Homo sapiens: one gene and its partner. The protein of the gene in region 1 purifies or fractionates together with the protein of each later gene. This does not show direct contact. Each region holds a gene or a part of one and is shown on either strand. Other genes may lie near its edges. The genes, in order: ALDH4A1 and LYPLAL1.

Region 1 (7,976 bases):
TAATTAAGTTAAATCTTAGTAGCCAGTCGTGGCTGGTGGCTGCCGTGTCGGGCATTGCAGCTGTAAGCGGAGGCAAGTGCAAATGCAGAGACCAGAAGTGGGAATGAACTTGTATTTGAAGAAACAAAGCAAGGCCCATGAGTAGGGAGGGAGGAGGGCTGGTAGGAGAAGACGGGCTGAGACGTAGGCAGGGCTGGACCTTGTTGGCATATTAAAGTTTTCCCACAAAGAAACAGTTTCATGGTCAAGGAAATTTGGCATGTGTGGTGTTAAAGCAAAATGGACTCCTCCCGTGCAGAACTTCTCAGAGCCTTGAATGCTCTAATACGCATGGCACATCTTCAAGGACAAGGTCTGCCATGTAGTGTTTCCCACACGCATTGGGCCATGGAACCCCGTTTCTGCAAAGACCCCCATGGACCAAGTGTTTTGTGGAGCACATTTTGGGAATGTGCTGAGGCCTAGAGGGAGGGAGAGTTGCAGCCAGCACGTGACCAGCAGAGCTGGGACCGGTGGTCCAGCATGTTTCTCTGTGGCGTGAATTGGGGCCCACTGGGGAGTCTGGACCCTGTTCCTGGACTGGTGGGAGTTCGGATGGGGGTGTCAGGGAAGGTGAGCGCTCCTCAGGGTCAGCTGTGTGGCTTTCTGCTCTCAGAGCCTCCTTCCCTGCCTCCCTGAGGGAGAGAGGCCGCTGGTTACCACTTTCCAACCTGGAGCAGGTGACTTCATCTCTCTGTGCCTCAGTTTTCTTGGCTTGAAATTGGGGATAGTAATGGGAGGTTGTTGTGAGGCTTTGGTCAGACAAAGCACAGCGTACTTCGTCCAGAGTTGGGCAGCTGTTAAGTGCTTTCAGCTGCTGTTAGCTGCTGCTTCCCACGGAGGGAGGAAACTGAGGCCGGGAGAGTGAAGTGACCTGTCTGAAGCTCCCTCCCACTGGGGAAATGGGGGAGCGGTTTCCAGCACGCGTGGGGAGGAGGGGCCCAACCCTGGCAGCCGACATAGGGTAGGCTCCAATGTCCCTCGTGGACGAGGGCTCAGGAGAACCTCACAAAAAGCTGTGCCCACTTCTGGGAATGGCTGGCTCTCGGGGGCCTTGGGTTCTCATCTGTCCTCTGCTGTTGTGTTGGGTAGTTTCAGTTTTCCCATCAGTGTAATGGGGCTGTTGGACCTGATCACCTCTGATGCCCTTCACCCCTCCCTGGGCCTCAGTTTCCTCATCTGTGGAGTGGGAGAATGGGCCTGGCCCGTGGGTCTCTGGGATGTTGGCCAGCGCTCACTCTGAGCCTCCGCCCGCTCTGGGCTGCTCCGTGCTCGTGTTGGTCCCGGGCCATGGATGGCGTAGGTGGTGTTTTGGGCCCCTGGGCAACCGGGGGAGCCAGCTCCTCTGGTCATTTCCCCACCCCCGACCCCTGTAGAGTGCGGCGGAAAGAACTTCCACTTCGTGCACCGCTCGGCCGACGTGGAGAGCGTGGTGAGCGGGACCCTCCGCTCAGCCTTCGAGTACGGTGGCCAGAAGTGTTCCGCGTGCTCGCGTCTCTACGTGCCGCACTCGCTGTGGCCGCAGATCAAAGGGCGGCTGCTGGAGGAGCACAGTCGGATCAAAGTGGGCGACGTGAGTGGCACCGTCACCCCCGCCGCGGCCCAGCGGGGGGCTGATGGGATTGGGTCCCTGGGAGGCTCCTCTGCAGCCGGGGCTGGGGTGTGCGGGGAGGGGTCTCCCTTGGTCTCGGCCTGCAGTGACTCGTCTCTTCTGGCGCCTCCCTTGCCTCCAGCCTGCAGAGGATTTTGGGACCTTCTTCTCTGCAGTGATTGATGCCAAGGTACGGGGTGGGAAGTGGGCGTTCCTGGGTGGGGGCAAGCCCTGGAGTGGGTGGAAGAGGGAGGAAGAGATACAGGGTACCCTGACCCAGGGCATGACCCAGCCCCACTGCTTTGATCAAGGCAGCTCAGCAGCCACACACGCACCTCCAGCTTCAGAAAGGGCAGAATCAGCCGTAGCCAGACAAGAGCTCATCTTGCGGCCACCCTGGAACCAGGCTCAGCGAGCTCCTAATAGCATTTGCATGAGTGCATGTACACGTGTGTTTGTGAATGTGTTCATATAGGGCTCCGTGTGGCTCCACATGTAGGTCTTTCCATATAAACACGTACATATCCATTTGCACATAAGCACACACACGCATATGTCGATAAGTCCACCCACACGCATGTACATGGAGAAGGCATGCAGATCCCTACATGCTTAGACATGTGACCATGCATATGCCTATATATGCATTGATTGATGTGTGTCTGTGTTTATATGCGAGTGCACCTGTAGTACTAACACACGTACACTTGTGTGTGTACACACACACACACACACAGTGTTCATGTCTGTCCTTGTCTCTGCTGTGGCTCAGCCAGACCCTGGCTTTTGCCCTTGGCGTCCCCTACCCCTGCCCCTGTTTCAGGAGTTGGGCCCTTCAGGTGCAGGTGTTTCGGGGTGAGTGTGTTGTGGGGGCTGCCGCAGGGATGCCTTCCCAGCCTCTTAGACCTCCCTCCTCCCTGCCCACCCCAGTCCTTTGCCCGTATCAAGAAGTGGCTGGAGCACGCACGCTCCTCACCCAGCCTCACCATCCTGGCCGGGGGCAAGTGTGATGACTCCGTGGGCTACTTTGTGGAGCCCTGCATCGTGGAGAGCAAGGACCCTCAGGAGCCCATCATGAAGGAGGTGACTGGGGTGGGCAGCCTGGGGTCCAGAGGAGGACAATCCCACCGGAGCACAGCACACACACAGTTCTCCTGGAGACATTCTCCCATTTCACAGATGAGGCCCTAAAGGGAGACCCTAAAAGGGAATGCCTCCGACCGGGAGAGAGTAGAGCCAGGTTTTGAGCTCAGGCTGCCTAACTCCAAATCCGGGGCTGTGTCCTTGACCCTGGCTGGGGTCTGAGCATTTCCAGTGCCCTCAGCAACCACGTCCACTGCAGCCATCATAATGGCTGACACTGATAGACTTTTACTGTGGGGCCAGCTGTGGCTGAGCACTTGGCTGAGATGACGTGGGTGTTACTGTTCCCATTTTACAGATGAGAAACTGAGGTCAAGGCACTTGCCCAAGTTGGTAGTGCAGGGCTGGAGTGTGCCTGAGAAGATCTTCCCCCCAGCCCCTTGGTGGCAGAGGGAACCATGAACCCTTCTGGAGGGAATGGTATCTCTGGGCAACTCTCATGCCAGCTGCTGCTGGAAGCCTCTGGGACCTGGACCCTTAGTTCTCCGGGTGTGGGTTTGGCAGGGAGAGCCAGAAAATGTTTGCATCTTTTGCCGGCTTGTGGTGGGATGGACAGGACAGGGAGCTGGGCACGTTGCTGTCCTGGAGGGAACCCAGGAGGAGGCGACACCTGACCCTTCTTGCAGACACTGAAGTGTAAACTGAGGCCCAGGGACTGGGGAGAGGGTGAGCCAGAGCAGGGGCACTGGGAGGGCTCAGGGCCCTGGTCCCTGGTCCCGTGGAGGGTCTGACGCCGGGGCCTCTCTCCTAGGAGATCTTCGGGCCTGTACTGTCTGTGTACGTCTACCCGGATGACAAGTACAAGGAGACGCTGCAGCTGGTTGACAGCACCACCAGCTATGGCCTCACGGGGGCAGTGTTCTCCCAGGATAAGTGAGTGGCCAGGCCGCAGCCCTGGTGCTGTGCTCCGGGTGTCCTGTCCGTGTCCCCATCCCCACCTCCTGGACGTGGTTCCCAGTAATAATGCTGCCCCTACCTTCTCTCTGTCCCCTCCCCTCAGCCCAGACAGGCAGCCAGGGCTCGCCACATGGGCCCACAGCAGCAGGCTCTTTGTTGCCGGTACTGGTGGTGCCGGTGCCAGGGTGCCACTGGGGACCAGTGGATCTGAACCTCTAGGGGCAGGGCTAGGAATTGGTGTCTTCGACTGGCTCTGCGGGATCTGGTGTTGCCCCACTGAGTGAGGTGATTGTCCCATGCTACAAAGCAGGGCAGGCCAGGGGCTGCAGAGGCAGGATTCGAACCTGGGTCACATGAGGCTAAACTTGAGGCTTCGCCTCTTCTTTCCTCCGTGGCACTGGTTGCCCCCATGTCTGCCTCTATGAGAAAGTGGAGGTGAGCTTGGAGAGGGAGGAAGGGTGTGGGCCTGGGAGCTGGAGTTTCCGCTGCTCCTGAGGGACAGGAACATTGGACCAGGACAGGCCACTCCCTTCAACTTCGCAGTAGCCCTGTAACGAGGCGTGCCAAGCCCCTCCCCAGAGGAGGAAGCTGGGCTCAGAGACTGGGTAACCTGACCGAAGGCCCACAGCCAACAGCTGGCAGCATCCCTCATCCCTGACTCGGCCTCCTGTTGAACCTGGAAAGCCAGTGTGGGCTGGAGCAGGGGTGTTGAGGCTGGAGCTGGGGCTGGAGGGGAGATGAGCTGGTTGCTCTGTCACCACTGCTCTGCTTTGTAGGGACGTCGTGCAGGAGGCCACAAAGGTGCTGAGGAATGCTGCCGGCAACTTCTACATCAACGACAAGTCCACTGGCTCGATAGTGGGCCAGCAGCCCTTTGGGGGGGCCCGAGCCTCTGGTGAGTGGGTCCCCCTTCCCACAGGGGAGCTGAGTTCCTGGTGGGAGACCCTAGATGTTACGTCTCGAGGGGCTTCAGAGTAATAGGAAGGATACCATTTACTGAGCACTTATTGTGGGCCAAGCAAGTGCACTAGCTCAGGGTCCTTTCAGCAAACTCGTGAGCAAAGGGACTATTCTTCCCATTTTACAGAGGAGGAAACTGAGGCTCAAGGCCACATGACCCTGGTGGGATTGTAATTTTGGCTCCAGCAGCCGCACTTTCTGCACCATAGCCAGTGTCCCTTAAGTCCAACAACCTCTACTTCACAATGGGGAACTGAGGCTCAGGAGGAGCAATGGCTTGCCAAAGGTGACTGCTCCTGAGTGGCAGAGCCAGGGCTGAACCCAGGCGTGCTGGGGTTTCCCACACCGACCAGTTCTCCAGCTCTTGATGGATGCTGGCTGGGTGTCCTACAGTTTAACTTGATGCTCACTGCCTGGGGTTAGTGCAGACCCCACAGGTTAAGAACTCAGTCCCGTAAGACTGACCCCCCAACTTCAGATGCCAATCACAAGTACTGGGACCCCAGGTTACCCACACCTTGTCTGACTTTGCGACGCATTAGAAGCTCCCATGATGCCCTCTTGAGTTTTGATACGTTGTTAGAACAGCTCACGGAACCGAGGGGAAGCGTGCTTACTATTACCCATGTATTGCAGAGGGTATTTTAAAGGATACAGATGAACAGCCAGATGCGCAGACACATAGGGCAAAGACTGGAAGGGTCCCCGGCAGGGGCACCGCCGTCCCCCTGGAGTTCGGGCTGTGCCACCCCCTTGGCATGTGGACGTGTTCACCAATCTGGAAGCTCTCCCGACCCTGTCCTTTTAGGTTTTTATGGAGGCTGCATTACACAGGCACGATTGATTCAATCATTGGCCATTGGGGTCGACTCAACCTCCAGCCCCTCTGCCCTCCCTGGGGCTGAAGGTTCCAAGCCTCTAATCACAGGGTTGGTTCCTTTGCCAATCAGTGCCATCCTGCAAGAGCCCTCATTAGCATAAACTCATGTGTGATTAGAAGGGGCTTGTTATGAATAACGGAAGACACTCCTTTCACCCCCATCACTCTGGAAATTCCAAGAGCTTTAGGAATTCTGGCTAGGAACCAGGGGTGAAGGCTAGATATGTACCTCTTATGGCACCCCAGGACCATGCCAAGTCCCTGCCTCTCAGTCTAGTGTTCTCTCCACGCCACACCCTGCCTCTTAGACATCCTCGCATCCCAGCAAGGATGCAAGGCTGGGTGCGACTGGAGAGAACAATGGAGGCTCCCCACAGACTGGAGACTGGAGGCAGGGTCTCCTGTCCATCCCTCTGGCTCTTCTGCATGCCCCAAGCTTGGCAGCAGGCTCGCTGCTGGCCGCTACACTGCTGGTCCGTTGATTCCATCATCTCCTCCCTTCCCCTTCTGCCCAGGCTGTTGCATCTTTTCAGAGAAAAACAGAAGTGTCTTTTCCGCAGGAACCAATGACAAGCCAGGGGGCCCACACTACATCCTGCGCTGGACGTCGCCGCAGGTCATCAAGGAGACACATAAGCCCCTGGGGGACTGGAGCTACGCGTACATGCAGTGAGCCCCTCTCGGGCTCCACCGTCCAGCTGTCTGTCCGTCCAGGTGGCCGACCTCACTGCACAGACCCCACTCCAGCCCCTCCACCCCTTCTTCATGCACAGCTGCCTTTCTATAATCCGGGCTTGACTCCCTTCTTACCACTGTATTCTGGCCTCTCCCATGCCTCAGGCTCTGGTTTGAGATCGTGCTGGGGAGGAACATGGCCACTACCCCTTATCCCATCGGCCATGTGGGAGGTATGACCCTGGTGCCTGGCAGGTTCTCCCTCTGCCCTCCACTGGGCCCAGTGGCTCAGGGACCTGGGGAAAGGAGATGGAGCAGCTCTTGGGATCCTTTGGGGAAAAGGAGGCCATTCTGGGCCCCTTGGCAAACCTCACCACTCACAGAGGCTCCTGGCCTTGATCCCTGCCCCTCCAGGTGTCCAGGGTAAAGTGTAACTCAGACTGACCTGTGGGGCACAGGGGGCACCAGCTGGCCTTGCCCTCTCTGGTCTGGGCTGTCTACCTTCCTCACTGTATCTTTGCCCAGACCCACCTGGGCCAGTAGGCCCCTGTCCCCAGCCACACACCTTAGATGCTGGCATGCCTTACTCCAGGTGCCTGTGTTTGGCCGAGGCCTGTGTGATTCCCGGTCTGCACCACATGGCGGGGTTGGGGGGCCGCTGGAGGCCACCTGCCAAGGCGTGGGATGGGATGGTCCTGCCGGTTTAGGCCGTGATTCTGGAAAACCTTGGATGGGCCTTCGTCCTATGTCAGCCTTCCCTTTGATCCTCAGGCCCTACCTGTAGAGACCTCCACTCCTAGAGCCAGTCTCAGGGTCTGGGATTTCCCTGCAGGAGCTCAGCCACCACTGTGCCATGGTGACACAGGCCAAGGCAGACATTGGCCCTCCCTTCTCCCAGCCCCCAGAGGCCTGGCCTTGGGTTCGTCAGCATGGGCCGAGGACGTTGCCTGTAGAATCCTCCTCTGCCTGGGAGTGGCTCTGTGTGGACCAGTCCCTCACTGGCCCATTCTTTTTTTGACGCAGCCAATCTGTGACCACGATTCCTCCCACAGATGCCTCCTGCTTGGATTCTGAGTGGTCAGAGATCTGTAAAGCATGACTTTCAAGGATGGTTCTTAGGGGACTGTGAAAGTGTTGGGTCTTCCTCCAGGATGCCTGCATGGGACCCCACCCGGAGCTGGTGTGGCCATTCCCCAAGTGCCACTGGCCCATGGATGGGGGTGGGTGCTGGTGCCAGCTGGGCTGGGTGTGGGTTCTGTGTCCTTCCAGGATATGTGTCATTTCCCATGAGGGGCCGGGGCAGGTGGCTGGGTGGGGGCACAGGCTGGAGTATTCTTAGTTCTACTGGTTCTACACTGTGAGGTGGCAATGGGATTTGCTCAGATGCCACCCAATAAAATGCCTGTTACTTAATCACAGTGGTGGATGGTCTTTCTGGAGGGGATGGTGGGGGCAGCCAACATCTTTTAAGTCTGGTGTCATTGCCAATGTGTCACCTGGTCATGGGCACAGTGCTCTCAGTGTGACAGAAGGAACAGTAGGTGCTGATGTTTGAAATTGTCTGTTGGAGGCGGTGGGGCTGGGTTCACATCCTGGCTCACTGCCCCCCCGCCAGCCAGATGATTGCCACAAAGTTATGCAACCTCTCTGACCTTCCATCTCTTCATCCATAAGATGGGGTAACCGCCCCCTCTCCCCGCCATGGGTCATCATGAGAATTGAATGAGTTAACACTTCCACATGCTTAGAATAGTGCCAGACACATGATGATTCAAAAATATTACCCATAAG
Region 2 (7,976 bases), about 200 Mb from region 1:
GCTTAGAAAGTACATATGGTAGAGATAGCTTTAAATTAATTGGCATCTATATTGCACTGGATAGTTTTAAAATTGCCATTACATGTCAGTGTTTTCTATTTAGGTAATGTTTTAAGTTCTGAAGTTGTTTTTATATACATTAGATCTCCTGGGTCTTGCAGTAGGTAAAAGTAAAGTAGGATATAATTATTTTCATTTCAGAGGTGAAGAAACTAAAATTCAAAGTGTTCCTGGCTAATACAGAGTTGGGACTAGAACCCGGGTCCCCATAATACCTTCCTTTATTGGCCACTAGGTGGTGATAATTCGTTGTTAAGAGAGAATACTGTTATAATTTAGGCTTAACTTAGATCTAGGATGTATAGAACCTGACAAATGATATGAATAGATTTATCAGAATTTTGATAATATAAGCATATTATCAGAATTTTGAAGCAGAGAGAATCAAGTCTTTCTGGAACTACACTGGAGTAATTTACGTGGATGATCTAAATATCCATCATGACAGGAATGGTTGAGGGAATGATGGCCTATTAATAGAATTGAGTATTATGTAACCATTAAGTACTACATGCACACACACATAAAAAGCACTCAGTAGGCCGAGGCGGGTGGATCATGAGGTCAGGAGATCGAGACCATCCTGGCTAACAAGGTGAAACCCCGTCTCTACTACAAATACAAAAAATTAGCCGGGCGCGGTGGCGGGCGCCTGTAGTCCCAGCTACTCGGGAGGCTGAGGCAGGAGAATGGCGTGAACCCGGGAAGCGGAGCTTGCAGTGAGCCGAGATTGCGCCACTGCAGTCCGCAGTCCGGCCTGGGCGACAGAGCGAGACTCCGTCTCAAAAAAAAAAAAAAACAAAAAAAACAAAAGCACTCAGTAAGTATGTGTTCAATTAAAAATAATTATAAAATTTTGTAATTCTGTAGAAAGACTTTCAAATTAGTATTACATGAAAAAAATAAGATACATTGAACATGTAGAGTTAGTTTAACTGTAAAAATGAAATTTAAGAGAACATGTCAAAATTCTGTACAGTACAAAATATTGTAAAATTTTGTACAAGAAACTTTTGTACAAGAAACATTTTGTACAATGGGTGTATATTAATTTTGCAATAAGATTAAAAATAAAAATAAATGAAGGGATAGTTAGAATTCCCAAGATGAAGTCTAGCATCAAAATTTCCAGCCTGCCTTTTTCTGAACTTGTACACGTTTTCTCTATAGCCCAGCTGGGAGCTAAAACTTCAGAATGATAGCATTCTTCTACTTTCTTTGAACATATATGTATTTTAATTAAACATTTTATGTTTCTTCAACAACTAGTAGGACTTTAAAGGCTCTGGACTGTTGTTCTAACAGTTTTCCATAGAGGAAAATAAATATTTTGTTTATCCCACAAGTTTTGTATGAGAGGAGATATCCAAATAAATGTAATAGTCATAATTTCTGTATTCCCAAATCTGAAGAATAATTATAATAGTATACCAGTTAAATGGAAGAGGTGTTGAAATTTAGAATGGTAATGGACTTTATTGCATGTTTAAAGTTCTTTTCAGTTGATAGCACACTTTAAGTGGATTTTTTTAAGGATTTTACTTTCAGATTGATTATCTTAATGTTCCTAATATAGTCTTTTTATAGATTGTTTCTGTTTTATTTTATATAAAGAGTTCATAAAGCCAGGTTTATTATTTTTTAACATGTTTTATTCAGCTTGTTAATCTTAAGTGTATGTTGAAATGTTAACTCTTGACATTTTAAATACTTTGCCAGCAACCGTAAATACCCGTTATAACCATTACCTACAATGGATTTACTATTTTCGTATTTACTTATTGAACAGTAGATTTTATATCATTTTTTAGACTCTTAGGTGGAAAATTGAATTCAAATAACTAGTTCTTTGTGTTAAATTTTCTTCTGTTAGGAAAAAATACACAAAGTCCCTTTTCACAGTAGTGTCCTATGCTAAAGGTCATTGTATTGTCAAAGACGGCTAGTGAGGAGTTGCAGATTACCTCACAAAATCATAAATGGGAAAGGGACTTAGATTAAATCTTAAAATAATAATATTTCAATGAGTATATTTTTCTTCATTGTAACTTAAGAGAATTAAACATGAAGTTAAATGTCTGCAGGATGCATTTATGTGTATTCATAATGACATTTTATGTGCGGGTAAATGTTTTCTTTCTCTCTTTTTTTTTTTTTAAGTTGTTACCATCAAAAGTCTCTGAAACTACATAAAGTGATTACATTCCCTGGTCAACAAAAATGAAGTGTTTGTCACTTCATATGTAAAATTTTCTTGATAGTTATGCTTTTAAAATCTCTTTTTAATGTAAGTTTTTGCCTACTAATCTTTTATTTACATTTTATCTTTTAATGATCTTTATCTTAGCCTCAAAATTATCTATGAAATACTAATTTTATTTTTGCTTCATTTATAAATTTTGAAGCTTTTTTCAATCATTCGTACAGCTTAGATGGTCTAGAACTATGGTAGCCACTAGCTACATGTTGCTCTTTAGTTAAATAAAATATAGAATTGGTTCCTTGGTCACACTAACATATTTCAAATATTAATTAGTTACATTTGGCAGACACATAATTCAGGCTCTTGAATTTCTCAGAAAAAAATAATAAATTTGCTCCTGCAGCCTTGTTATCTATCGCGTGTGGATTTTCTTTAAATGGTGACCATATTTTAACTTTTTGTTTTTACCCATTTTACTTAATTTTGAATTATTTGCCACACAGCTGTGATTCTCAGACATCTGATTTATGGCATAAGAGCTTTTAAAAATTAGACATATGCAGTGAGATTTTGTTAGTGGGTCTGGGATTGGGTCTAAAATCTTTATTTTTAAGAGGTCAGATTAGGAATGATGGGCTTGGAGCACACTAATCATTCATTCCTAGATTTTGTAGGTTTTTTTAAGCTTTACTTTTATATCAAATTAAATCACCAAAAACCTACATTTTCTGATGATAAATTTGTCTCCTTGCAGAGATATTGTTACTGAGTTACAGTTACATTGTTCATTTGTTTAATAAGTATAAGCACTTTCTGTGTGCCAGGCACTGTTGTAAGCATAGAGGGATACATTGATGAATAAAACACAAAAATCCCAGCTCCCATCATTAAATTCTAGTGAAAGTTAAGTCTTTATGTCCCAGAATTTTATGAGAAGAATCAGCAACAGAAGTGGCAGTATGTAGAATGTCTGATTTTGAATTTTATGTTTAATAAAGATCCATTTAATAAATTCTATTAAGGAATTCAATGCTAAGAAAAATTTCTAGTATGACTTGTTATGATTCCTTCTGTTAAAGAATATTGCCTTGCTACAGAGAAACTGTTAAATGCCCAGTTGCACACGTAATTACTGCCCCCACCCTAACATCATGGTCTGTAAGTCTCTTTTTTTATTCTCTGTGTCTCACTCTTTGCTCAAATCCCATCTCTTCCTCTCTCACATTCTCTCCTATTTTAGAGATGTAGTTTTATTATTAACAGTGTGTTTGATTTTAAGCAACCTGAAATTCCTTTGTAAGTAAATGGGCTGTAAAGAACAGAGGGGAAATTGGAAGAGATGAAGGAAGTGAGTGTTTGGTAAGCTCTATTCTGTGAACTTTTAGGAAAGCTAGAATTGTGTTCTGAGAGATAGGGATTCTTAAACTGAAAGTAGATTTCTGTATTTACAGTAACTGTACATTTTAAAAGTTCTCGCAATTTTAGTTTTTATAACTGATTAAGTATTTGTATTTAAAAGGTTGGTGGAAAATCTAGAGATTAGTCCATCTATCTTGTTTTACTATAAATGAAATCCAGCATTTTAAATAATTTACACAAAGACATTCAGCTTGGGAGTATCACAGGCAGGACTAGAACTAGTTTCCTTAATGTTGTCTCTTTGATAAGCTTAAGAGATATTTGTAAATTTTTTACTACTTTCATTAGAAACCCATACGGTTTCTAAAAATTCAGTTAAATTTTTATTGAGTTACTGCTATGTGCAAAGCACTATACTTACCACTGAGCGTGTAAAGTTGAAACTGACTCATTAGTATGCGTGCACCACAGAGACACTTTGTTCAGCTAATCATAAGCACTCAATGAAAATATGATTATTGAAGAAAAACTGTTTCTTACCCTTAAGGGTTTCAAAATCTCAATAATTTATATTCAATAAATTAAATCGATAAGAATTTTATTTCAAAATGTCTTCGCTTTACAACCCTCATGATGTTATTAAAGAGAAAACTTCATAAGCAGAGAGAAATCTGTAACTAGAATTGTGGCAAAAAACAATAAAGTTGAGATTTTTTTCTGTGTACTTACAATAAATGTTTACCAGAAATACTAATTTGTGTATTTACGTAAGCTGTTCATATCTAAATGGGACATGTCAAAGATTTATTAATGCACAAATTCATGGATAATGTAGCCCAGTGGCTTTTAACCTTTTGGAGAATCTAATGTACATTTGCAAATTTTACATACAGTGTTAAGATGCTTATGCTTTTTTCTCCCCCACCAAGCTCATTTATGAACTTCTAATTAGATGTATCTACATCTGGAGTTATTGGGGGTATTTTGAAAGAGCCTTTCAGGTGGCTCTTGTCCATGGTGGGCTACTGCTACGATAAGAACTTATTATTTCTTGCTGGTATGTTGAAAATCACAGATAACTTTTATTCATTATTTACATAGTGTGCCTTTTTTAAAAAATCTAAACTTTGCCAGACTGGTAATCTTCTCTCGGGTATTTGTGTTCTGAGTCCAAAATAATATTACCTGCCTATTCCAGATAAAGTAGTCCTATTTTAATAAATATCAAGGGATAGTAGAAAGTATATTAAACTCTATTGCAAAAGATCCGAATTCCAAAATTACTATTAATAGTTTTATATTTAAAATAATATGTACCTAATCTTGGGCCTCAGTTCCCTCCATGTATAAAAGATTATTGTAGTAAATTCAAATTTATGGTCTCTTAAGAGCTCAGCTTTACACTTTGTTAAGTGAAATAAAGCAGCAGACTTGAAATTAGGAGATTTGAATTCTACTTCAAAGTATATTTTTGTATTTCTATGAGTGTGTGGCTACATGATTTACATTCTGTATTTTCTCATGGAATATAATGAGATGTCATTTAGCTTTCTCTCAAGCTTAGGAATGTCACACTGAGTCACTGACTTGTCGTCAGGCCTGGAATCACCATTCTCTCTGCTGCCGTCACCTCATAACAGCTATCTCCATATTCTGTGTTGGATGTGTTTCCTTCTCAAAGTTCCCCTGAACAGGAGGGTCTGTGTATTTTAATCTGCATATATCCAGTGACTGGCATAGAATTGGTACATTAAAGAGACAATAACAGTTTGACTAATTTTTTTTTCAAACTTTGGTTTTAAAAACTACATATAGGCATACATGTTTCATTTTTATTATATCACCATAAATTAGTTTCCAAAATAATATTGTAATCCAAAAATGTGTTAACTAGCTCCTCAAATTTTTTTTATCATTCTTAATTCAGAATTCACTAAGCATCTATTATATAGCAAACACCAGATACATAACTCCTTATGGAGCTCACAGCTTAGCAAGTAAGACAAAAAGGTGCAAATTATTAATTGCGTTGCAGTGTGAGGGTTTCTGTACGTGTAAACAAAATATAAGTAAATATTGAGAATTTAAGTAATGCTTGTAATATGACTCATTTTGAATTACGATAGATATTTTACTTGGTGAACATGATATATTTGTTTAATCCTGGCTCCTTGTAGAGCACAGCTCTCTTTACCAGTGGTGACATAGAGGGAACAGGGTTATTTATGTTATCGCAGGCCTTTGTCTGTGAAACTTAGAGTAGACGAAATTTCTTTTTAGCATTCTCTTTAAAGGTCTCCAGATATTTTAAAAATATGGAAAATTGTTATATATCATATCCTAAATTATTATTTTATGTATTCTACTTTTAAGTATGTTTTTGTTTTTAGGAGGATTCTCTATGGGAGGATGCATGGCAATACATTTAGCATATAGAAATCATCAAGATGTGGCAGGAGTATTTGCTCTTTCTAGTTTTCTGAATAAAGCATCTGCTGTTTACCAGGTAAGTTCCAGATTTAAAAAAAAATGAAAAAAATATGAAATATATACATGTTAAAACTAAAGCAAAATCGGTAATAAAGCTGTAAAACACACACACAGTTGATGCACAGTTGATATGGATTGACCATTCCTGGAATTCATGGCCAAATGAGTCGTAGTGATTAAATTCCAGCTGATCATTAATGTTTTGGAAATCCCCTGTACAAGAAATATTGTTAAGCAAAATGTCAAGGAGGAAAGGATAATCATGTGTGTGGTTGTGGGGGAGCATATATGTAAATTTTATACATATTAAAACTGCATGATGGTTATAGCTGGGTTTGCTTATTGCATCATGAACATAAAACAAAAATCAATTACATAGCACATACTTATTATGCAGCAATATCCTCATCTATGAATATGATGCAGCTTCAATTATAATGTTACAGCTTCAGTACCAGAAGTGGAAATGTTAAAGCAGATACAGAATAGAGAACTAAAATGTAATTGTCCCCTTGATTGTGCCTTAGCTGTGTACTCCTCCCTCCTTCCACATTGTGTGAAGAGGTCTGTCTTCCCAAGTCACTTAGTTTCTTTAGGAAATGCTTTGGCCATTTTTAAGACGTCCTCTATAGAATAAATGTAAGTGACACACAGTTACAAATTGAGTGATGCCAGGAACCAGCTAAGTCCCCAGGCCTGGCCCACCAATGTATACCTCAGACAGCACTCCCTCTGCCTTTTTTTTCCCATTAGTTATTGAAGCCTTGGTAAAATTGGAATTTTCCTGTTCTCTCTGATTTCTAAGAATGATCTTAAATGGAATTTCTTAAACTTTTCTGTCTTTGTATCTTCTTCTCTAGGCTCTTCAGAAGAGTAATGGTGTACTTCCTGAATTATTTCAGTGTCATGGTACTGCAGATGAGTTAGTTCTTCATTCTTGGGCAGAAGAGACAAACTCAATGTTAAAATCTCTAGGAGTGACCACGAAGTTTCATAGTTTTCCAAATGTTTACCATGAGCTAAGCAAAACTGAGTTAGACATATTGAAGTTATGGATTCTTACAAAGCTGCCAGGAGAAATGGAAAAACAAAAATGAATGAATCAAGAGTGATTTGTTAATGTAAGTGTAATGTCTTTGTGAAAAGTGATTTTTACTGCCAAATTATAATGATAATTAAAATATTAAGAAATAACACTTTCCTGACTTTTTTATTATTAAAATGCTTATCACTGTAGACAGTAGCTAATCTTATTAATGAAAAACAATAGACAAACATCTGTGCATAATTTTTCAGACACAATTCTGTAAATATTTGGAAACCTTTTAAGTATTTAAACTTTTAAATTTTTGAAATAAAGTATTCTAAACTAATATAAATAAGGACAATGAAAAAACATGAAAGGACTTAGCATAATGTTATTTTATCTTTTCTACAACTTTGTTTAAATTACCTTTCCAAAGATATTTGTGTTTATGTAATTTTCCACGGAATAACATTAATACTCTAGGTTTATAAACCGGTTTCACATTATTTCATTTGATCATCACAAGAGCTTTGTGAAGTAAGCCGAGAAGTTGTTACTGGTATTTAATAATAGCAATAGAGGAGTTAAAGACTTTCCCACAGCTTGCAGGTCAAGACAAGAAATTCAGGTCTCCTAATTCTCAGTGGAGCTCTATTTCTGTTAACCCAAATTGCTGCTCTGTTTTAGGTCTCAATTTCATCTGTAAAATGATACTAATAGTACTTATCCCATTGGATTTTTGTTGAGATTTAAATAAATAGCCAAAAGCCAATACATAATAAACACTCAATAAAGATTAACCATAAGGAGAGTCATGATCTGGTTCCAGGAATACAT

Evidence for each region.
Region 2: the proteins of ALDH4A1 (region 1) and LYPLAL1 fractionate together in Homo sapiens (co-fractionation; 2 studies listed by BioGRID). This does not show direct contact.

Annotation. Positions count from the first base shown.
Region 1 is NC_000001.11:18,871,052-18,879,027, reverse strand, and holds the end of ALDH4A1 (delta-1-pyrroline-5-carboxylate dehydrogenase, mitochondrial isoform a precursor), read left to right. Parts: intron 1-1,415; coding exon 1,416-1,612; intron 1,613-1,772; coding exon 1,773-1,820; intron 1,821-2,560; coding exon 2,561-2,713; intron 2,714-3,524; coding exon 3,525-3,646; intron 3,647-4,446; coding exon 4,447-4,565; intron 4,566-6,070; coding exon 6,071-6,183; 3' UTR 6,184-7,598; downstream 7,599-7,976. UniProt on the Homo sapiens protein: Irreversible conversion of delta-1-pyrroline-5-carboxylate (P5C), derived either from proline or ornithine, to glutamate. This is a necessary step in the pathway interconnecting the urea and tricarboxylic acid cycles.
Region 2 is NC_000001.11:219,204,520-219,212,495, forward strand, and holds part of LYPLAL1 (lysophospholipase-like protein 1), read left to right. Parts: intron 1-5,995; coding exon of another isoform or gene 5,996-6,012; coding exon 6,013-6,128; intron 6,129-6,972; coding exon 6,973-7,209; 3' UTR 7,210-7,976.